Homo sapiens: one gene and its partners. The protein of the gene in region 6 interacts with the protein of the main gene of each other region in a biochemical or structural test. Each region holds a gene or a part of one and is shown on either strand. Other genes may lie near its edges.

Region 1 (3,500 bases), on a different chromosome or scaffold from region 6:
ATGCCTGGCTAATTTTTTTGTATTTTTAGTAGAGACAGGGTTTCACTATGTTGGCCAGGCTGGTCTCAAACTTTTGACCTCAGGTGATCCGTCCGCCTCAGCCTCCCAAAGTGTGGGATTACAGGCATGAGCCACCATGCCCGGCCAGCTTAAGTGTTTTAAAAGGAAGGTTAATGTGTTTACAGAACATATTAACAAATGTTATCTGGGGTACAGGTTTATGACAGATAAAGTTCTTTTTTAGCTTTTGTTACTTGCTTCTGAATCAGAAAAATAAAAACCGAAATTCAGGTGTATTACTATGCAATGAATAGGTTTCTAAAAGTCAGAGCTGAAAAACAAAACAAAACAAAAAAAACCTGGTATGTATCCTGATCACCCAACCCACAAAGACTGGTCTACCACACAAACCTCAACTACTTAAACATCTTTTTATTTTTCTTCACTGCCAAAACAATATTAAAACATTATAGATGCAAGACCCAATTTGTCCATAATCCTATCATTTAAGCAGAAAATGTTTTCAAATCAGTTCTTACTCATCTGCATGTGCAATTTTGATACATTTGTAGTAATTATTAGAGCTTTAATTTATATTCTGCCTTTTTGCCTAAAGTTTATACCTTAAATATTTTTCCATTTCATTCCCTTGCTTTCCCACTTTCAATCCCTTCAAGTAAACAAATTAAATATGGTATGTGTATATGTATATACATATATGCATGCGTGTGTGTGTATTCAATATATATGGGTTTTTTCCTGTCTTTTTTCCATGAAAAAATACTTCCATGTATACACACATACACACATATGTGTATGATCATTCTGTATGTATTGATTTCTAACCTGATGCTTCTCAAATCACCGGGGGTCGGGGGGTGGGGTGCCTTTAAACAACACAATGCCCAGATTGCACTCATGTCAACTAATCAGATGTCTGGGGATGAGAATCAGGCATCAGTACTTTTTTTTGGGGGCAAGGTCTTGCTCTATCACCCAGACTGGAGTTCAATGGTGCGATCTTGGCTCACTGCAACCTCCACCTCCTGGGCTCAAGCGAGTCTCCCACCTTATCCTCCCAAGTAGCTAAAAGTATGGGTGCACACCACCATGCCTGGCTAATGTTTTTTTTTTTATTTTTTTATTTTTTGTAGAGACGGAGTCTCACTATGTTACCCAGGCTGATCTTGAACTCCTGAGCTCAAGCGATCCTCCCGCCTCTACCTCCCAAAGCCCTGGGATTATAGGCACAGCACCCAGCTACATCAGTACTTTTTAAAAGATCCCCTGGTGATTCCAATGTGCACAAAAATTTGATGACCACATTTTAATCTTTTTCTTTTTCAGTTAACAATACATTATGAATATTTTTCATTATAAAATCATATAGATCAATATGACTATTTTTAATCGTTGAGAGTTTATTTTGTTCTACTGATGTAACATAACTTATTTAACCAATCCCCTGTTCATGAGCATTAAGGTTGTTTACTCTGTATATCTAAATAGTTTCTCCCTATACTCCCAGGTTCTGTTTTAACTGTGAATGGTAAAACTGAGAACTATATCCTGGATACTACACCTGGCTCCCAAGCATCTCTGATATGTGCTGTTCAAAACCACACCAGAGAGGAAGAACTGCTCTGGTACCGAGAGGAGGGGAGAGTGGATTTGAAATCTGGAAACAAAATCAATTCCAGCTCTGTCTGTGTCTCTTCCATCAGTGAAAATGACAACGGAATCAGCTTTACCTGCAGGCTGGGGAGGGATCAGTCCGTGTCCGTTTCGGTGGTGCTGAATGTTACTTGTGAGTGAGGGGAAAAGAAACAGCTAGTGGGTCTGTAATGTCTGTAACACATGAAGTGGTAGTTGAAATCTAGGTCTTGGTATTGCCAAATTGCCCAATTTATGCTCCTACCACAAAGTATGAGAGTACCTATTTCCCCTCACCCTCATGAGCACTGAGTATCGCCAAACTCTGAGAATTTGCCAGCCTCCTTTGAAATTTTCTTTTCCTTTTCTTTTTTTTCTTTTCTCTTTTCTTTTCTTTTTTCTTTTTCTTTTTTCTTTCTTTCTTTTTTTTTTTTTTGAGACAGAGTCTCGCTCTGTTGCCCAGGCTGGAGTGCAGTTCAGTGGCGCAATCTCGGCTCACTGCAACCTCCACCTCCCGGGTTCAAGCGATTCTCCTGCCTCAGCCTCCTGGGTAGCTGGGACTGCAGGTGCCCACTACCATGCCCAGCTAATTTTTAATTTTTGTATTTTTAGTAGAGACGGGGGGTTCACCATGTTGGCCAGGCTGGTCTCAAGCTCCTAACCTCGAGTGAACCGCCTACCTCAGCCTCTCAAACTGCTGGGATTACAGGTGTGAGCCACTGCACCCAGCCTGTTTTCATTTTTTAAATTAAGAATGAGGGTGTTCACCTTTGTGTAAACATAATGGTCTTTTTTTTGTTTGTTTCCATGAAATGCCTGCTTGTATCCTTAACTCATTTTTTTCCGTTGGGTTTTATGCTTTTTTCTCATTAATCTGTACAAGGGCTTTGTAGATTAAGGAAATTAGTCCTTTGTCATTTTGAATTGTAAGTATTTCTCCTATTTGTTTTTGAAAATTTTTATTGTTCTTTTTTGCCATATTGAAATTTTAAATGTTTATATATTTAAAGCTTCAAGTCTTTTCCTTTGTAGTTCCTAGCTTTTGTGTTCTGCTTAGACAGATTTTCATGGCCTGGCACAGTGGCTCATGTGTGTAATCCCAACACTTTGGGAGGCAGAGGCAAATGGATCACTTAAGATCAGGAGTTCGAGACCAGCCTGACCAACAATGGTGAAACCTGGCCTCTACTAAAAATACAAAAATTGGCCAGGTGCGGTGGTAGGCACCTGTAATCTCAGCTACTCAGGAGGCTGAGGCAGGAGAATTGCTTGAACTCAAGAAGCAGAGGTTGCAATGAGCTGAGATGCCACCACTGCACTCCAGCCTGGGCAACAGTGTGAGACCCATCTCAAAAAAAAAAAAAAAAGATTTTCATTAGGGAATCTTTAAACATCACCTTAAAATCAAAAAAGGTGAAGCTTTTCAATGATTGGGTTCCAGGTATTGGTAACCCATTGGTAGAACTGTATAGGCTTAGGGGACTGTCAAGTGATACAATGTAGATGATCACATGGGTTGTTGGGTGAAAAGCTGGTTCTGCATGAGAATGGTGTGGATGGTATGGCAATGGGTGAGGTATAATGATGCAGTATGATTTGGTAGAAAGACCCTATCTCTACAAACATAACATAGTGAGACCCTATTTCTACCAAAAAAAAAAATAAGGTGTGTTTTTAATTAGCTGGGCATGGTGGCACACATCTGTAGCCCCAGCTGCTCGGGAGGCTGAGGCTACAGGATCTTCTGAGCCCAGAAGTTTGAGGCTTCAGCGAGCTGTGATTGCGCCACTGCATTTCAACCTGGGCAACAGAGTGAGACCCTGTCTCAAAAAAAATAAAATAAAATA
Region 2 (2,635 bases), on a different chromosome or scaffold from region 6:
TGTAATTGATGTCTGGGCTCTCCTCCCAAGAGTCTAGTTGATTTGAGATGGTGCCTGGACACTAGCATTTTCCAAAGCACTTCAGGGGATTTTAATGTGCAACCAAGATTAAGCACCTTAAGAATTATCCTTTCTAGGGCTGGGCATGGTGGCTTACACCTGTAATCCCAGCATTTTGGGGGACCGAGGCAGGCAGATCACAAGGTCAGGAGTTTGAGACCAGCCTGGCCAACGTGTTGAAACCCTGTCTCTACTTAAAATACAAAAATTAGCCAGGCGTGGTGGCGCACGCCTGTAATCCCAGCTACTCGGGAGGCTGAGGCAGGAGAATTGCTTGAACCCAGGGAGGCAGAGGTTGCAGTGAGCTGAGATTGTGCCAGTGTACTCCAACCTGGGTGACAGAACAAGACTCCATCTCGGGGTGGGGGGTGGGGGCGGGAATCCTCTTTCTAATGAATCTCAGAAACATCCGAATGAAGCTTTAGTTGTACCTGCCAAAGGTGTTAATAATTTGGAGCTGAATTTGACGGTGTTACATGCCATACTTAGAGAATACTCTTTTAGTCTTCAGGCAATACCAGCTCAATCACAAAGAGGCAAATTATTGAAATCAGAATATATAGGGATTCGTTCAACAGTTTACTTACATATTTCTTATGTATCAGTCCAATCAATTCAGAAGGAATATCATCATTCAACCTTAGGTCAATTGTATTATAAAGTTACATACCATGGCCAGGTACCATGGCTCACATCTATAATTCCAAAACTTTGGGAGACCGAAGAGGGAGAATTGCTTGAGCCCAGGAGTTCAAGACCAGCCTGGGAAATATGGCAAAACTCCATCTCTACAAAAAATAGCCGGACGTGGTGGTGCACACCTGTGGTCCCAGCTACTTGGGACACAAAGGCAGGAGGATCACTTGAGCCTGGGAGGATCACTGGGCTGCAGTGAGCTATCATTACACCACTGCACTCCAGTCTCAGTGACAGAGCAAAATCTAGTCTCAAAAAAACAAAAAAAACAAAAACAACAAAAAACAACAAAAAACAAATTTACATACCATGAATTATTTTAAATCCTGGTTGTCAGGGTGTTAGAAAAAGTGCTCCTTGATTAGCTTAAGTTTATATCAACTATGAAAAACAAGCATCTCCATTAATTACTAGAAAAGCTGCCACTGGTTTCTGTCATGCCTACAACTTAAGTTTGAAACACTTACATGGACTTTATAAAGAGCTTAAAGAGGTTGGAGAATTAGATTGTGCTTATAAACATCTTTACATATTATGAAAATCAGCAACGGAACAGCAATTAATTCTTACAACATCTGAAATGTGTTGTGGACTAGTTTATAAATCAAACCGAATTTCAAAAAAATCAGAGGTGAGTCCCAGAGAGAACTGCGTAGGACTGTAGGTAGAAAATTTTATTTAATAATTCATTTTGGTTAATATCAAGCATCTAAGATGTATACACAGTCCTCTTCCTGCAAGGAGTAATACAGGCAGTCAGGCTGGGAACTGAGCCAACTTGGTACTTGGCAGCAGCCCTTCTCAAGGCTGATGGGAGGTTCTGTAATCCTCTTTGCAAGCTTTGTCACCAGGTCACACTTTTGGCAGCCAATCAATAGATTTATCTCATTAAACTGGCAGAAGAGTGTTTCAATGCATGCTCCAACAGCTACCTGGAAATAGCAATTGTGAGAGATGCTAAGGTAAGGATATTCCAGTTCCTATAACCGTCTGATTTTTTGTCCTTGTGAATTTTCAATCTGCTGTTTTACTGGGATAGCTAAGTTCCAGGTTTATTTTCTCAGGTAGGCTCACCCACGACCTCTGTCCTGTGGTTTGCATTCCTGAACATCTGTTAGTCTTTCAAATGCAAGGCACAAAACTAACCTCAAGAGTGTGGCTAGATCTGGGAGTGAACACAGGGCCTGTCCCTCACAGACGAGAGGTCAGGAGCACCTTTGTTTCCCAAGGCAGGTTCTTGATTGATTTACCTTCATGCGTTGATGTCTTTGCTATGTGTGTAAAATGCATGTGTTGCTGAATCACATGTGAAGCTCTACATGCTGGGGTTTATACTGTGTTTGGCATGTTGTGGGAGCTCAATAAATACTAAATCAGTTGCACAGTCTTCAGCCACAGGATTAATAAACCAAGCCAGTTATACATATGGGGTAACTACACAACCTCAGGATAGCCAGAGTCAAAGCAAGGATAAATCATGTCAAGGAAAACATGCTATTCAACCTAGATTTGTCAACTCCACCTTATTCCAGAGATGAACTGTTCATTTTGGGTCTTCTGTGACCCCCTGCCCCCAACCTCAGTAATGCCAGCATTTAAATATATGGCACCAAGCTCTCTACTCCCCAAGACTGCATATGCCTAAATCCACGGGTCCATCAAAATGAGAGTAGAGAACTTCATGCCTAATTTCTATACCATCATATATTGGAGAGTTATTTAAATGTTAGCATTTTATCACCCATTTCTCACACATAATTTGGGAAGGTCTAACAACATCCCACATATGGGTCTATAAGCAAAATCACGAGGTTTCTAAAATGTTCATGATGGAGTCATAAAAAAGATTTTTCAGTACACCTAAAATACCACTCAAAAA
Region 3 (3,500 bases), about 74 Mb from region 6:
TGGCACAAGCTCAGTGTGCTTTCAGAGACACTGAACACTCTGTTGAAGAAACTCAAATGGCTTTTAAAATAAAAAGACAAAATCATTATCTCTGTGTAGAGGATGGTTTTATCCTTGAAGGTTTACTATTTGAAACCTCATCACAATAGAATGCTGAGGGAAGTTTTTGGAAGTACAAGCGTGATAGTTCTCAGATGATGTTTGCAAAGTTGAAATATTGTCCATACTCTTAGGAATTCAGTGGAATGCAGTAGCAGAAGCTCTCTGGTGCTTAGTGAATGAATGAAAATTTTTTTTTTTTTTACCTTGCAGGTGAAAAAGGTGTGAGGGTTGAACTCAATAAACCTTCAGATTCGGTCGGTAAAGACGTCTTCTAGAGCCTTTGATCCAGCAATACCCCACTTCACCTACAATATTGTTAACTATTTGTTAACTTGTGAATACGAATAAATGGGATAAAGAAAAATAGACAACCAGTTCGCATTTTAATAAGGAAACAGAAACAACTTTTTGTGTTGCATCAAACAGAAGATTTTGACTGCTGTGACTTTGTACTGCATGATCAACTTCAAATCTGTGATTGCTTACAGGAGGAAGATAAGCTACTAATTGAAAATGGTTTTTACATCTGGATATGAAATAAGTGCCCTGTGTAGAATTTTTTTCATTCTTATATTTTGCCAGATCTGTTATCTAGCTGAGTTCATTTCATCTCTCCCTTTTTTATATCAAGTTTGAATTTGGGATAATTTTTCTATATTAGGTACAATTTATCTAAACTGAATTGAGAAAAAATTACAGTATTATTCCTCAAAATAACATCAATCTATTTTTGTAAACCTGTTCATACTATTAAATTTTGCCCTAAAAGACCTCTTAATAATGATTGTTGCCAGTGACTGATGATTAATTTTATTTTACTTAAAATAAGAAAAGGAGCACTTTAATTACAACTGAAAAATCAGATTGTTTTGTAGTCCTTCCTTACACTAATTTGAACTGTTAAAGATTGCTGCTTTTTTTTTGACATTGTCAATAACGAAACCTAATTGTAAAACAGTCACCATTTACTACCAATAACTTTTAGTTAATGTTTTACAAGGAAAAAGACACAAGAAGAGTTTAAATTTTTTTGTTTTGTTTTGTTTTTTTGAGACAGTCTTGCTCTGTTACCCAGGCTGGAGGGGAGTGGTGCATTCTTGGCTCACTGCAACCTCCGCCTCCCAGGTTCAAGCAATCCTCCCACCTCAGCCTCCCAACTAGCTGGGACTGCAGGCACACACCACCATGCCTGACTAATTTTTGTATGTTTAGTAGAGACGGGGTTTTGCCATGTTGCCTAGGCTGGGGTTTAAGTTAAATTTTTTAAAAAACTAAAGTGACTGGCACTAAGTGAACTTGAGATTATCCTCAGCTTCAAGTTCCTAAGATAAGGGCTTTCTTAAGCTTTCAGGTGTATGTATCCTCTAGATGTAGACAATAATGTCCCATTTCTAAGTCTTTTCCTTTTGCTTCTCCTTAAATTGATTGTACTTCCAAATTTGCTGTTATGTTTTTTTCCTAATACTGTGATCTATCTGATCTGCAGACAAGAACCTTGTCTCTGTTGAAGAGCATCAAGGGGAGATTATGTACACATTGAAACTGAAGTGTGGTGTTACTGACGGAATGTGCAGTAACTCCTCAGATATCTGTTAAGGCATTTCCCAGATGTGATGCCAGCCTTCTTACCTGTACTGAAAGATGCTTAGCTTAGAAAAAAACAAAACAGATGCAAAATCAGATAATTTTATTTTGTTTCATGGGTTTTCTTATTTACTTTTTAAACAAGGAAGGAATATTAGAAAATCACACAAGGCCTCACATACATGTTATTTAAAGAATGAATTGGGACGGATGTCTTAGACTTCACTTTCCTAGGCTTTTTAGCAAAACCTAAAGGGTGGTATCCATATTTTGCGTGAATTATGGGTGTAAGACCTTGCCCACTTAGGTTTTCTATCTCTGTCCTTGATCTTCTTTGCCAAAATGTGAGTATACAGAAATTTTCTGTATATTTCAACTTAAGACATTTTTAGCATCTGTATAGTTTGTATTCAATTTGAGACCTTTTCTATGGGAAGCTCAGTAATTTTTATTAAAAGATTGCCATTGCTATTCATGTAAAACATGGAAAAAAATTGTGTAGTGAAGCCAACAGTGGACTTAGGATGGGATTGAATGTTCAGTATAGTGATCTCACTTAGGAGAATTTGCAGGAGAAAGTGATAGTTTATTGTTTTTTCCTCGCCCATATTCAGTTTTGTTCTACTTCCTCCCCTTCCTTCCAGATGATAACATCACATCTCTACAGTAAGTGCCTCTGCCAGCCCAACCCAGGAGCGCAAGTTGTCTTTGCCATCTGGTCTATAGTACAGTGCGCGGCGTTAGGCCACAACTCAAAAGCATTATCTTTTTTAGGGTTAGTAGAAATTGTTTTATGTTGATGGGAGGTTTGTTTGATTGTCAAAATGTACAGCCACAGCCTTTTAATTTGGGAGCCCCTGTTGTCATTCAAATGTGTACCTCTACAGTTGTAAAAAGTATTAGATTCTACTATCTGTGGGTTGTGCTTGCCAGACAGGTCTTAAATTGTATATTTTTTGGAAAAGTTTATATACTCTCTTAGGAATCATTGTGAAAAGATCAAGAAATCAGGATGGCCATTTATTTAATATCCATTCATTTCATGTTAGTGGGACTATTAACTTGTCACCAAGCAGGACTCTATTTCAAACAAAATTTAAAACTGTTTGTGGCCTATATGTGTTTAATCCTGGTTAAAGATAAAGCTTCATAATGCTGTTTTTATTCAACACATTAACCAGCTGTAAAACACAGACCTTTATCAAGAGTAGGCAAAGATTTTCAGGATTCATATACAGATAGACTATAAAGTCATGTAATTTGAAAAGCAGTGTTTCATTATGAAAGAGCTCTCAAGTTGCTTGTAAAGCTAATCTAATTAAAAAGATGTATAAATGTTGTTGAAACATTATGGTGGTTATTTCCAGCTGTCTTTTTTGTTTTTCAATCCTTTATCATACATTGGCTTTCCGAATGATCCCTTTCATCAGATAAAGCTTTTCTGGCTTAGTCTAGGACATTTGTTATAACTTTTTGTAAATGATAATGAAGGAAAGAGAACAGTAAACATAGGAGTTCAACAATTTTAGAAACATCCCTGGGGTCATTGGACTGTCTGTGGGATCCATGAAGTCTGTTTGGATTCTCAGCACTTGAATTCTTGCCCTTTTAGTAGGATTTTTAAAATTATTTTAACATTCATAGCTGTTGACAGATCTGTATCACCCCTCTGCTGCAAAAGGAAGTGGGGTTAGGCATTTATCTCTAATTGTCATAGATGTACCATTGTGTATATGCAAGAAGGTTTAATTTGTGTGGTCATAACTAAAATATGAGAGCTCTTATTAAGGTGAGATCAAAATACCTGTTTATAT
Region 4 (4,115 bases), on a different chromosome or scaffold from region 6:
GCAGAGGGGGTTAAAGAGCAACAGGAAGTACAGTGGAGTTTTCTCAGAGCTAGGGATTGTTCTGAGAATGGGTAGGGAAAGGTTTTCAGGTACCAGCCCGGCGTCCAGAAAGGCAGAGACTCACATGCCCCTTTCCTGAGAGCGCTAGGAAGGGAGATAAAAGACAAAGCCAATATTTGGGGCTGTGCGGCCAGGCCATGAAATGCTGCCAGCTAGTGGACCTATGCGCCTGCAGGTTGCAGGTAGAAGTCTCAGGCTTGTGGTGGGGGTGGGGCTATTTAGCCCCTTCCAGTTGGGCTCAAGAGGGTGGACATTCTGAGCGCCAGGCTATAAGGTGAAAGAAGTGGAGAGGTGCTTCATGTGAAAGGAAGGCGTAAAGATCAAAGAGTGGCCCAAGTGTCCGGTGACACCGCCCCTCTCCCTCCACAACAGATACCACTAAGCAACCTAGCCCCCCGCCCCCATCCTACAATATCACTTTCCCTCCCTGTATCAATCTAGGCTGGATCTTGGGAGATCGACCCTATGGGTGAGAGGGGCACGGATGGGAGAATTAGGTAGCTCCAACTAGATTAATCTAGATCTATCAGGGATCCAAGCCTGCCCCATAGGACCCCAGGTCAGTCCCTGGCGACTCAGCGCTCCGCTGTCTCCCTGTCCTACCAGCCGCCCGCCGCCCTTACTCCCCCAGGTTCAACTCCCCTTCCTCCTGAATGACCTATGGTCGCCGGAGCAGCCTCGCCACCACCGGCCCAGAGCCCAGGCTGACGGGGGTGGGCAAAGGTCACTGCCCAAAGCAGGGGATATTCAGGCCAAGGGGCAAAGAGAGACTCTGCTAGCCATATGCTCCGAGGGACTCCTGTCCCCTCTACCCGCACCCGCGCTTAGCCTCCCACCTCCCCTCCCGTCTCTGCCACCACCCAGGGGAGGGGGAGGTCTGGGGAAGCAAACAAACGAGACAGAAAATTCCGTACCGAGGGGGGAGAGATGAGACGGTGGGACGGGGCAGCGGGGGTTGACTTGGGGCTGCGGCTGCGGCTTCCTTCCACCCCTGGCCGCGGAGCTGCAAAGAAGGCAGGAGCTGCTGCCCCTGCCGCCTGCCCCGTCCTCCCTCTTTCCCTCTCGCCTCCCCGCCTCCCCCGCCCCGCCCCGCCGCCAGGAGATTGAGAGTGGCTTCGGCCCGGGGGCTGGGGGAGGTGAGGGGTGCTTTTGCCTACCACGGTTGTCTCAATCTCTCTCTCTCTCTCTCTCTCTCTTTCTCTCTCTCTCTCTCTCTCTCTCTCTCTCTCTCTCACACACACACACACACACACACACCCCACATCACAACCACGACGGGTTGTCCGCAGCTCGCAGCCACCCCAAAGGGAGGAATAAAGAACAGGAGCAGAGGGAAGCCGGGCGCAGAAAGAAGGGAAAAGGAAGAGCTCAGGGTTGGACATTTTTGGAGACAGGGGTGGGGAGGATAAAGGGAGCGTGCCTCCTTGATTTTCCCCTCCCCACCCCTCTTTGCTTTTCTCTCCCCTTCTCTGTATAGCATATTCCAGAAACGGCAGCAGAAGGGGACAGAAACCTCTAGTGTAGAAAAGGGTTTTGGAGGGGTAGCCAGCGCTCCCGCCAGCCGCTACCTAACAGCTGGAGCTTGAGTGTGCGTGTAAGAGTGTGAATGCGGCTCTCTCTCTTTTTTTCTCTCTCTCTCCCCTCTCTCTCCATCCCTTCCTTCCTCCCTCCTTCTCCCTCTCCTTCACACTACAGTGTCAGCTACCCCTGTCAGTTTCCCCGTGTCAGTTTCTTCCCTAGCTCTTATTGTGTGTGACTGGCTGCGTGAAGGGAGTGGGTGCGCTTGAAGGGGCTCAGGTTGGGTTAGAGAGCTGGGAGAACAGGGTAGGGACATTGGTAGAGCAAAGAGTTTCAGGGCACTGGCGAAGGTGAAAGGTGAGGAGGGCCGATCTGTTACAGGCAAGTTTGGCAATAACTGAGCATCCAAAGGGGAAGCCAAGGTAGGAGCCAGTACTTGCGCTCGTCTTTACACCCCGCCCCTTTCCCTGTGCTCATCCGCCCACCCACCCATCAGCCTAGAGGCCCCGGGCTGTCCCAGTCGGCTGCTGTTTCGCGCCGCAAAAGAGGAGTCCGGCAAGGCGCCGCACCACGCATCCTGGCCGGTGGACATCCAGACGACACAGATTTTATCCGAAAAAACCACTTGGCTCAGGGTAAGTCTACAGGCGGCCGGTGCGGTCCATTTCACTGCCTGAGTGCTGCTGAGGGGCAAGGGGCAGCGAAGTGCGGGTTGAATGAAGATGCTGGGCTGCTGTAGGCGGAGAAGCATTGACTGGCTGGCTGTGGGCTCAGGGTGGTAGGGAGCAGAGGGAGGCCAGCAACAGATTGTTTTGGAAGAGGAAATGCAATGGGGAGAAGCTCCAGGGTTGATAGGACAAGGTGCTGCCTGCGATGACCAAAAACATCCTTTCACTGGGAATATTTTCCTGAACCACAGCTTTGTCCTATCCCTGGACAATGATTTGCTCCATTCTTGGGTAGATTTTAAGATCCGTGGGGAACCTGCTCCCAGGCCTCCTTAAAATCGATTAGTGTGGCCCTCGGACCAAGGATACCTGCCCTTCGTCAAAAGCCACCTTCAGAAATAGAGAGCCAGGAGCCGGATCATGAAGGTTCAGGAACCAGGGTCCCCATTTACCTTCTTTGTCTTGTATCCTTCAAACTTAAGAAATGGCCAGATTTGTTTGCCTGTCTTCCTTAAAGGAACCAAGAAATGCAAATGGAGGGGCATCAGTCAGATCTCTGCTTCAAAGTGGACACCTCCCTCCCTCCCTAGACACACATCGACTCGGACAAATGGTCATGATCATGTCCCACATATGCAGGTACTGAGCTGAATTCACAGATGCTGATCTTTCTCCATGGTCTCTTAGAATGAGACTAGAAGGGCTTTTTCCCTATTACAACCTGGGCTCTTTGGATCGCAGTCATGTACCTGGTGATGGTTAAGTGTTTAGCAAGGTTATTACTCCCTCAGGAAAAGCCTGAAGCGGGGAAACCAGCCTGAAAGATAGAACCTCTGAACTTTACCCGAGTTTATTATAAGAGTAGGAGAGACATAGACTAATTGATAATGCTCTTTTTAGAGATTGTGCATGTTAACCCTTGGCTTCAAATGTGAAATGATTACAACATTGACATGGCACACCCAGACCCACTTTTCTATTGCCATATATTTATCTTCATGGCATTTAACAAGAATGACAGATTTATATATCAGCATTCATAATTGTCTATTGTTGGTGTCATAGGTTTTTTGATGTTTTATTGATGATTTATATTATGTCTCCTTTCCCATAAACTCTTTAAAAACTGAGATATAAATGATGTCACATGGTACCTTTCATCATGTCTTTAAAATCTGCTTATTCTAAATCAAAAGGCATGTTAATATATTTACATAGTACGAAGTTCGTTTCAAAGCAAATATATAGTCTGGGATAAAAGAAACCCACAGGGTCAAGGAGTCTCTGAAGCTCTCTCTGTGAGGTCGAAGGAAGAATTGAATGTCACCTAAAATCCACATTTTGGTCCCTGGAAGATGCTGTTTTCATAAACTTTCACAATATACATAGGGAGAGAGAGAAAATCTGTGTGTGTGTGTGTGTGTGTGTGTGTGTGTGTGTGTGTGTGTGTATGTAGTTTTTCAAGGACCTCAATCAACCCCATACAATCTTGGCTCTGCTTTTGTAACAGAGGGGAGCAGGAGGTGAATTTGTGCTTCCAAAGCACCCAGGTTCGTCTGTTAAACTTTCTATTTATTACTATGTTACCAAAATGCAATGAATTGCCTCTTTCCAACTCAGCAAATAAGAGAAACGGATTCTGCATTAAGTGAAACTGTTTATGTTGCATCAGGCAATTCTTTCTAATGTTCACTGCTGAGAGAGAGCAGAATGAGGATTACTCAAGTAGGATCTGAAAAGGTGCCCATTCTGTTACTTTTTAAAGCAACCATAGTAAGTATTTTCTTAGGTTAAAATTACACTTTCAAATAGATATACTAAAGACCGGGTTGCAGACAGGTAGGAAAGAACTGGCAGCATCATAATTGG
Region 5 (2,590 bases), on a different chromosome or scaffold from region 6:
AACGCACGACTCACACTGTGGGCCCAGTGGGGACGGGGCTGCCAGCTTCCTCCTAGCCTGGGATCCTGACTTCCCTTCCCAAGGAGGCATCCTGGCCTATGGCTCCTAACCACCCCTCACTGTGGAATTGGGCGGAGGCCTGGACAGAAATGGAGAAAGAAGCAAAACAGGAAAATCGAGGGTGGGAGGAGGAACCCTCGATGGCAGGTCCCATGCCTGGCCCTGAGACACATCTCTAAGGTACAAAGGCAAACTCTAAAAGCTCAAACCACTTTCTTCCCAGACCCACCCAGCACCCCAAAGACAGCAGAAAGCTTTTATTACAATCATTAACATGGTCTTGATTTTTCTATCACAAACAGAGCCTAGCTGGCTCGTGAGCTCGACAAAGTGCGGCCCCAGAGCACCCTGCTTGCCCAGGGACTGCAGTGCCCACATACACGGGGAGAGGCCGGTCCCACCTCGGGGAACCCTCTGGAGCCTCCAGCCAGCTGCTGCATCCTGGCAGACCCATGGAATTCTAATTGTTCTTTTTGCCCCCTATGAATTAAAATTTTTTTCTCCAATTGCATGGTTTTTTTTTTTTTTGTAAACAGTCTCACCCAAGCTAAGGTCGAGAAAGCTGAAACCCGGTGTTTCTCCCCAAGTTAAAAACCAGCAAGGAGCACCGCAGCTAGCCAGCCTTGGACAGCAGAGGCTGGGCCCACCATCGAGCTGGGCTGCTTCCCCGCAGGCTGCAGCTCCATCTTCAGGCAGAAGCCCTGGCCCCCGTGGCCTGGCCCCCCAGGAGGCCACTTCTTTGCCCTGAGCCTGTGATAGCCTCTGAGGCCGGGGGCTGCCGCTCTGGCTGCCCCCTCTCCGGCCAACCTTCTGAGGCCTTTGCAAAGAAACATAAAACGACTAAAACGCTACTGAGTCTGCAACCCAGGGCACTGGGCCCGTTCTGCTCAAACCCAGGGCCCCTGAGCGACCGCGGGGCCTCTCCCCGGCCAGGGGTGGATGCTGCATGTCGGCCAAGGTTGGCTCAGATCTCTGACCCCCGTCTGTAGGGCCGCTGCTCCAGGACCCCGCCGCCAGCCTGGAGTCTGTCAAAGTCATGCCTGGCCTGGGGGCTGAGGCCATCCCGGCTTCGGCCGTCCTGGTCTCCGTCCGCCTCATCCTCCTCGTCACGGCTCAGGAAGGCCAGCTCGTTCTCATAGCAGAAGGAGTTGGCACTGGGCAGCAGGAACTTGTTCTCTACCAGATCCTTCGCACTGCAGCGGGGCGTAGAGGGCACCTCATAGGTCTTGTGGAAGTGCGAGTAGTCAATCTTGTACTGGTTCTTCTCCTCGAAGAGCACGGGCTCAAAGCGGTGACCCCACAGGATCTCATTGGCCAGGTAGGAGCTGCGGGCCTGGGTGGTCATGGCTGTGGCCTCCACCATGCCTTCCAGGATGACCACGATCTCAAAGTCGTCCGTCTCCAGGTCCTGCCGGCTGATGCCGAAGAGCGGGCTGGCCTCGTCAATTTCATGCAAGATGGTGATGGGCGACACCAGAAAGATGCGGTCCAGGCCCTTGTCGAAGCCCACATCGATGTCGATCTGGTCCAGCGGGATGTACTCGCCCTCCTCGGTGACCCGCGGCTTGATGAGCTGCGCGCGCACATGGGCCTCCACAATGTGGCTCTTGCGCAGGTTGCCCACACGCCACATGAGGCAGAGCTTGCCGTCACGCAGGGCCACCACGGCGTTGTGGCTGAACAGCAGCGTCTGTGCCCGCTTCTTGGGCCTTGCCATCTTGGCCATGATGGCACCAATCATGAAGGAGTCGATGATGCAGCCCACGATGGACTGGGCCACCACCATGAAGACGGCCACCAGGCACTCCTCCGTCACACAGCGCAGCCCGTAGCCGATGGTGGTCTGCGTCTCGATGGAGAAGAGGAAGGCCGCCATGAAGCCGTGCACCTGCATCACACAGGGTGTGCGGCCGTGGCCCTCAGCCGGCTCCAGGTCACCGTGTGCCACCGCGATGACCCAGAAGATGACGCCGAACAGCAGCCAGGAGGCAAGGAAGGCCAGCGAGAAGATGAGCAGCATGTAGCGCCAGCGGATGTCCACACAGGTGGTGAACATGTCAGCCAGGTAGCGCTGTGACTTCTCGTCCATGTTGGCGAACGCAATGTTGCACTGGCCATTCTTCTTGACGAAGCGGTTGCGGCACCTGCGCCGCGTGTGCACCTTGCCGTTGCCGAAGCCGTTGGCGCCCGACATGGTGACCAGGTGCAGCCCGTCCTCCTCCAATGACACGATGCTGTAGGGGTTGGCCCGGCTGGCCGCGGTCATCCCGGGGGTTGGGGGACCCTGGCTCACCCCCAGGCTAGCTCCAGGCAGGGCGGCTCCTGGAACAGAGAGGACAGCATGTCTGGCTGGGCTGGTGGCTCCAGGCTCCTCTACCCCCATCCCAGGGCCCCCAGACGTGACTGGAGGACGCTTCCACCCTGATTGACCCACAATCATGCTCTGGTCTTGCCTAAGCCAGCTCCCCACTCCGCCTTCCCAGTGCGAGTGGCCACCCCCTTCGGGCCCCCAGCAGCTCCAGCCAAAAAC
Region 6 (3,500 bases):
GGAGGAGGCGGTGAGCCTTCCTGGGTTGATGTGAGACACTCCTGGGGGTTTGGATATCCTCATAGATAAAAATCTCAGGATTTGCCCAGCACATTACAGTTTCCTAAGTGCTTTCGTAGAACATATCTCATTTGAATCTCACAGTGGTTCTGTGTGAGGTAGACAGAAGCATCAGAGGTTATTATTCATGTTTCACAGAAGGGGAAACTGAGGCTCAGAGAGGCTACCTGGCTTGCCCAGTGCCATCTTGCCTGGCTAGTGGCAGAATCTGGACTCAAAGACTCAAACACAGGTCTTCTGAGTCTGAATCTGTAGCTCTTTCATTGCCCCATCATGTCTAACTAGGCTTCTGTACTGGTCCTGTAGAATGTGTGGGGCACCGTTTTCTCCTTTCTCTTTGGTAGTAGGGTAAAGTGCCCGTCAGCAGTCAAGGTCTTCCCTTCTACTTTTCTGTCTTGGGGCTCCTACCTTGGGGGTTCAGTCTTGGGGCTCATACCTGTAAGTCCTATAGTTAAAGCACTATTTTCTCTTGTAAGATAGTGCAGCTTTGCAGGGTAAGGGTATTCCTCACCTCCACCCTGCCTGATTCTCTTCCCCATTAAGAGTGGTAGGACTCAGATCCCCTTCAGACATCCCCAGCTAGCTGCACTGAATCTTACTCCCTTAACTGTAGGCTTATTCAATTGTAACTTTGGGCAACATCAGCCTCAAGACTCTATGGATTTTAAATAATTTACAGATTTAAATCACACTGAAAGGAATAATACGCTGCGGATTATGGAGTCTAGTATTCTTTCAGTTTATCAGTTTGCTGTGTAGAGAGCCTAGTGTAAGGTGCTATAGGAGAGTTTTAGAAAATTAAGGTGTACAGTACTTGCTCACAGAGAGAGCATGCAACTGGGGGACTGGGAAACACGTAAGACTCTTGAAGACCACATAAAGCAACACCAGACTGTAAGCCCCTCACAAGCAGGGACAGTTTGGTTTGCCTGTATGAAATCCTGTGTGCCTAGCTTAGTGTCTTGCATGAGGTGAGTACTCAAGAAATGTTTGACAAATGAATGTTAGAGTGAATGAACAGATCAGCAAGTACAAATTATTTCATTGCGGGTTGTTTCAACATTCACGTGTTAATTTCAAATGTAGTCAAATAAGGTCAATTAGAGAAGGTTTCCTAGGTAATGTGTATTTTCTAGAAAATAAATGACATAATAAAGGACTATGTATTTGGAAAGAGATTGTAGCTGAGAGTAAGAAAATTTTGGAATATTTACTTGGCAGTCTTTCATCTCCTGTAGCACCCTGTTCAAGAGTGACTCCTGGGTCCATAGAAAGCATAAAGTATTTGCAACTATTCTTTATCTTTCAGTGTTAATCAGTTGTTACTGAAAGATGGGCTAAAGTGTAGCTGTTCATGTCCCTTTCAGTTTTTGTCCATGGGCAACTTACTGCCCATTAATATATATTCCTTTCAAGAGTTTCTAAAAATGTGTTTGCTATTGCAAACAGAGATAATGATACTAAATTATTTTTACAGGAGTGGTCATGAGTTTTGCTAAGCCATCTATATCTGTTAGCCTGGTTCCCCCATGGCAAATGTTTTTGAGATGGACAGGAGGGTTAGGGGTTTGCATCCATGAAACATCTTTCCTCTGCCCAAAGTTAGTTCATGTGAGGATCAAACCAAAGTACTTTAAGCCAAGAGTTTGTGGTTTGAGTCCTGGCTTTCCCCTTAACTATGTGACCTTGGGGAAGTCACATGCCTCCTCTGGCTTCCTCATGTAAAGCAGTAGTAGTTCATTTCTATAAAGTACAATCCAGTTCTCAAACATTTTTATATGGTGTGTCATTTGAGGATTATAATGTTTGTTTCATCTCTCTCACAAGCCTATTGAAAGGAGCAAATCAAACGAGATAATGTATTTCAAATTGTTTTCTAAACTGTAAACTCTATATAAATTATAGATGGTAAATTCACAGATTTGATTTAGCTTCGTGCACAACTTTCTGAGCTAAGTATCCCAAAACAAAACAAGGTGACTGAAATCTTTATATCATTTTGAAGAATTTAAGCAGAGTGAACTGGCTTTATTGTTGTAGAAGTGCATGGGGTCAGGAGGAAGGAGTATTTTTCCAATAGATAGGGTACTAGAAGAATGTGAGAAGAGAAGGGTTACTGAATCTCCTTCCCAGGAACTCTGATGAATGAGAGAGACTTCATCTACCTTGGCTCACCTTAAATGTCTGTTAGTGATGGGGATAGAAAGGATTTGTTCTGTGATCTCCAGCCATTCCTTGTCTTAAAAGCGTATGACTTTCCTAATTCAAAATAAATCTAGACCCAGCAACTGTTCTCTGTCAGGGGTCTCTTCGCACCTTGGCTTCTGGTCTTTATTGACTCCTGGGACCAAGAAGTCCCCAGACATTTAGCTGAGTTTCTACCTAGATTAGAAGGTTGGCCTCCCAGAATGGAGACAGGGATCCAGAGCTACGTATGATAAGTCCCGGAAATGCTGAGTCTTTTCCAAAATGTACCCTTGTTCCCATCTAGGGGTGTGAGATGAGAGACACAATGGATTTGCAGCTGAAACATTTGGCAATTAATCACCATTATGAGAAGGAGCAGACTAAGCTTAACTTCAGATACTCAAAAACATTTCTGAAAGAGTGCCCTTTTATTAATGTATTTGTTTAGCTTTTTTAATAGACAAGAAATAAGAAAAATTAAATGACAATACGAGTTCATCAAAAATAAAAAGATTTTGTGAACAGCACATAGCTAATCTCCTAGTTAGTATAAAGGTAAAGGAGTTCTGGAAGCTCACAGCCTCTGTGGAATGGAGTTTAGAAACTCTAGTTTGTATAGTGTTTCTTGCTGCTTTAATGTTCTGATAATCTGATGTTTGTGAAAAGGCTTTGTTAACTGTTGAGTTCTATAAACGTAAGAGGAGTTATTTTAATCTATATTGACTGAATCTGTTTCACCTCTTCATAGTAGCATTGCCTTTAAAAATTCATTTTTATTGGTTTATTATTTTTTAAGCTTAACTCAAAGATATATCACGTGGCTTGGAAACTCTTTTTGCTGTGGATTGTGGTGTTCCTTCTTTTGTCAATCACTATATTGATAAAAGACCCAAGCATACACCTGCTAGTGGCATGCAAGATCACTCCTTTGCCCCATGGGGTAAACCGTACTGAAGAAGTTGCTGATCCTGGTCTCAAAAAGAAAAAAGTATAACTTCATAAAAAGTCATGTTAGATCTTTTGTGAAAGGAGGTTTGGAGTTCTGAGGAAAGAACACAACATCTGAGTTAGTAGACGTGGATGATGGAGCCAGCTTTGTTAGCAGCTGGGTGAATGACCTTGCAAAGGTGCTTACCTGCCCTCGACCTCAGTTTGCTTATTTGGAAAAATGAGGGAATTAGGCTAGCCAGCCTCTAAGATTTGATTCCTTTTAGCTATTACGTTCTTTCAGCCTCTGAAACCAGAATGCTTTG
Region 7 (3,500 bases), on a different chromosome or scaffold from region 6:
TTAAAGCTATCAAGTAAAACAGCTATATTTACTCATATATGCATTCTCTTCCTATGGATAAGTCTATATGGACGTACATTATAATTAAAAGGTTGCTTGATGAGAATGGAATTAGTGTAAGATGAATTAAGTAGATGCTCTTCATAGCTGGTAATTTTGTACTATGATATTTTGATTCATCATTGTTCCCTGTATGAAATAGCCAGAAGCACAGACCTGAAATTTGAGCTCAGGGGTAGTTTACGCCCTAACTGTTCTTTTCTCCAGACACATACACAATTTTAACGATACGAATTTATCTCTCTACTAGGGAACTATTGTCTTTGTTCTCAGTGTTAGATTATAGCTGTAGGCTCCTAAGTGGTCTCCTGCCCTTTGCCCCACTGCAGTCTGTTCTCAAGCAGCCAGGGTCACCTTTAAAAACTAAAGTCAGACCCTGTCATTCTTCTACTCAAAACCCCAAAATGACTCCCATCTCATTTGGAGTAAAAGCCATAGTTTCATGTTGATCTTTCTGGGGTGACCATATATCCTGGTTTACCTGAAAGAGTCCTGGGTTTATGCTTGTTTTTCTCACATCCTATTAACTTTACTTTTTACCCCAGATCTTCAATTTTATTTAAAGTTTTCTTATCAGTATTTGCATTAAGTAAGCCACTATGGCTTAACAGACCTCCTTCCAGCTTCTTCCATGGTCTCATCTAGCAGCGTATGAAACACATATTCAGTGAACAGTGCTCTTTTTTTTTTTTTTGAGATGGAGTCTCTTTCTGTCGTGCAGGCTGGAGTGCAGTGGTGCAATCTTGGCTCACTGCCACCTCTGCCTCCCAGGTTCAAGTGATTCTCCTGCCTCAGCCTCCTGAGTATCTGGGACTACAGGCATGCACCACCATGCGCAGCTAATTTTTGTATTTTTAGTAGAGACAGGATTTCACCATGTTGACTAGGCTGGTCTTGTACTCCTGACCTCAGGTGATTTGCCTGCCTCAGCTTCCCAAAGTGCTGGGATTACAAGCACGAGCCACTGTCCCCAGCCAAATTCTGACTTAATTATGGTTAAATGCAAAAGATGGCTAATGATAACTTGTCTTTTTTCTTGATTCTGTTCAGATGAAACCTAGCTAGCAGCAACCTTTCAAGAATTATATGCAGGGTGCTGCCTGTTAAAGCTAAGAGCTCAAGCACAAGTACCTCTTCTGATCTTAGGTGGTAGCAGAAGAATTTCTGAGGCTTTTCCCCCTGCTGGCCACTTTGTGAACCACCACTCATGCCCTCATGTGGTCGTGTGGTGGGTGGCCTGTGAGATGCGTGGAACCTCCTCAGAGTCAGTAGAAAATGGGAGAAATTGTGGCTTAATGTCATACAAATTATGTTTAGGAAATAGAGGCTAAGTAATTTTGCCATAGAGTATAGTGTAACCTAATTGTTTTATTAAAGCAGTTTTGTTATTATTTGTATATGTGAAGCTCTATTTGTTTTATTATATGGTAATGCCTTTTGAATTTTACAATAAACCCTTTCAGCAGTTAGCTCAAAACAAAACCCACATGTTTAATTGTCTCAAGAAAGCTGATAATGAATATGCAACGTGCAGAAAATATTTTTCAATATTTACCATGTACCATGCAGGCAAGTAGAAAGATCACTATCCCTTTGAAAACCAGAAGGTACAAATATGGTGAAGCAGCTTTGGCATCTATTTCCAAAGTTAATAATTTAAGAAGAATATGCCTTAAAATGACTTCAACACGGCAGCTGCAGGAGGCCTATGTACATGTCATTGTGAAGCACACCTTCCCATTAGTATCAAATAACTCATAAATTAATTTTGCTCATTTTCAATTCCAAGTTTTCTTGTACTTGTAAGTAAACTGGTAATAATTAATGAGTGATTTTCCTTTGCAAACCTTCAAATAATGTTTTTTATAATAATTTCCTTAGAGGTCTCAATTCAAAAATGTATTAATTCTGAAATGTTTCAATTTTGTTTTTTATCTAATTCAAACAATCAAAATAAAATATGTGAAAATTTATTTCCTAGTCAAAAAGTGAAACATCTGACATTGTTAATGCCACTGTAAATTTAGTTGAAAAGCTCAACATTGAAGGTAAACTGTTGTTTTTGTTGTAAGAATATGAATACAAATGTTAATAGAGCACAGCATTGTGTTAAAAATGTTCTTACCAAGTTAACAAGCTATGAAGCAGAAATGTACTTGGAATTGGTTGTAATGTGCACAAAATTTGTGACTGCATTCAAACAAGCTGCGGTATTCTGTCAGTCAAAACAGAAACTAAAATTGTCAAAATGTATAAATTATAAATATATATATACACACACACACACACACACACAGATTTTATAAGTAACTGATCTACAAAACTTTTCTGACAGAAGCTGATATTGAACACTACCATGCAAGGAAACATTTCAGAATGACTATATGTATATTCCTGTCTGTGTTGCATGTCATCAATTGGATTTTGGGAATGCCTGAGCCTTTGAAAAACCACTTTGTAAAGCAACCCAAATTTAGATTGCATTATGTTCAAGACCAGTTGGAAATTTTTAATCGATTACTGAATGAATGTAGCATGAAAATTCAGCTTTTGAAGCTTTTAGCAAGTTACAATTATGTAAAATAAGGCTTGCAAAGGAAGAAGCTCAAATTTCTCCCTACAAAAGCGAAGAAGGAGTTGAACAAATCAAAAGATGAAAGCAGATATGGTTTAATTATCTATTTTGACAATTGTGCTTCAGAAAAATCTTGACTTTGATGTATTTTGACTTCTAATTTTATTTGGATAAATTTTTATTCTCTACCAAAATGGAGAAAAATTGTGAAAGTCTATGATTTTGCAGTATCTAGATTTGGTGAAATGTTGAAACAATCACAGATATAGACAACTTGAAAGTTTTATCTTGTAAGAAATTATTGAGCAAAAGTGCTTTGAATGAAGGTAGAAAGACAGCACCTATGACGATATTGGCCTGAAATATTTACATATTTTAATCTAAAAAATGAGAAGATTCTTCATTTAGCAGAACTTACAGGTTCATCAGTATCTAGAGAGGAAATGTGTTCTCAGTTAAAAACATATAGTGAAGCATCAATTAAAGTTGTCCATAATTTCAAATATATTAACCATAAAATGAAGTTTTGAAAAAGATTGCAGTTTTATAAAAAAATAACTGTTTAAATAAAAAACGAAAAAAAACACATGTTCCTGAAAAATGTCCACATCCCAATGCTAGAGACAATAATATCTAAATAACCAATTAAGGTATGTGAATACATATAAAGAATAATTGTCTGTACCATTAAAAATGTTCAGATAATCAATTTTTTGTTGTTGTTGAGACAGAGTGTCACTCTGTTGCCCAGGCTGGAGTTCAGTGGCATGATCTTGGCTCGCTGCAACCTCCGCCTCCTGGGTTCAAGCAATTCTCCTGTCTCAGCCTCCCGAGTAGCTGGGACTACAGGCACCCACCACCATAC

The links.
Region 1: the proteins of ARHGEF11 (region 6) and TMIGD1 interact in a test that uses a peptide from one of them, tested with the Homo sapiens proteins (one large-scale study listed by IntAct).
Region 2: the proteins of ARHGEF11 (region 6) and PRLHR interact in a test that uses a peptide from one of them, tested with the Homo sapiens proteins (one large-scale study listed by IntAct).
Region 3: the proteins of ARHGEF11 (region 6) and EGLN1 interact in a test that uses a peptide from one of them, tested with the Homo sapiens proteins (one large-scale study listed by IntAct).
Region 4: the proteins of ARHGEF11 (region 6) and TRPC5 interact in a test that uses a peptide from one of them, tested with the Homo sapiens proteins (one large-scale study listed by IntAct).
Region 5: the proteins of ARHGEF11 (region 6) and KCNJ18 interact in a test that uses a peptide from one of them, tested with the Homo sapiens proteins (one large-scale study listed by IntAct).
Region 7: the proteins of ARHGEF11 (region 6) and LPXN interact in a test that uses a peptide from one of them, tested with the Homo sapiens proteins (one large-scale study listed by IntAct).

Annotation. Positions count from the first base shown.
Region 1 is NC_000017.11:30,327,558-30,331,057, reverse strand, and holds part of TMIGD1 (transmembrane and immunoglobulin domain-containing protein 1 isoform 1 precursor), read left to right. Parts: intron 1-1,528; coding exon 1,529-1,807; intron 1,808-3,500. UniProt on the Homo sapiens protein: May control cell-cell adhesion, cell migration and proliferation, cell morphology, and protects renal epithelial cells from oxidative cell injury to promote cell survival.
Region 2 is NC_000010.11:118,589,497-118,592,131, reverse strand, and holds the end of PRLHR (prolactin-releasing peptide receptor), read left to right. Parts: 3' UTR 1-2,135; downstream 2,136-2,635. UniProt on the Homo sapiens protein: Receptor for prolactin-releasing peptide (PrRP). Implicated in lactation, regulation of food intake and pain-signal processing.
Region 3 is NC_000001.11:231,363,288-231,366,787, reverse strand, and holds the end of EGLN1 (egl nine homolog 1), read left to right. Parts: intron 1-312; coding exon 313-377; 3' UTR 378-3,032; downstream 3,033-3,500. UniProt on the Homo sapiens protein: Cellular oxygen sensor that catalyzes, under normoxic conditions, the post-translational formation of 4-hydroxyproline in hypoxia-inducible factor (HIF) alpha proteins.
Region 4 is NC_000023.11:112,079,977-112,084,091, reverse strand, and holds the start of TRPC5 (short transient receptor potential channel 5), read left to right. Parts: upstream 1-1,315; 5' UTR 1,316-2,213; intron 2,214-4,115. UniProt on the Homo sapiens protein: Forms a receptor-activated non-selective calcium permeant cation channel. Mediates calcium-dependent phosphatidylserine externalization and apoptosis in neurons via its association with PLSCR1.
Region 5 is NC_000017.11:21,702,523-21,705,112, reverse strand, and holds the end of KCNJ18 (inward rectifier potassium channel 18), read right to left. Parts: intron 2,383-2,590; coding exon of another isoform or gene 2,327-2,382; coding exon 1,025-2,326; 3' UTR 501-1,024; downstream 1-500. UniProt on the Homo sapiens protein: Inward rectifier potassium channels are characterized by a greater tendency to allow potassium to flow into the cell rather than out of it.
Region 6 is NC_000001.11:157,039,243-157,042,742, reverse strand, and holds part of ARHGEF11 (rho guanine nucleotide exchange factor 11), read left to right. Parts: intron 1-3,500. UniProt on the Homo sapiens protein: May play a role in the regulation of RhoA GTPase by guanine nucleotide-binding alpha-12 (GNA12) and alpha-13 (GNA13). Acts as guanine nucleotide exchange factor (GEF) for RhoA GTPase and may act as GTPase-activating protein (GAP) for GNA12 and GNA13.
Region 7 is NC_000011.10:58,565,857-58,569,356, reverse strand, and holds part of LPXN (leupaxin), read left to right. Parts: intron 1-3,500. UniProt on the Homo sapiens protein: Transcriptional coactivator for androgen receptor (AR) and serum response factor (SRF). Contributes to the regulation of cell adhesion, spreading and cell migration and acts as a negative regulator in integrin-mediated cell adhesion events.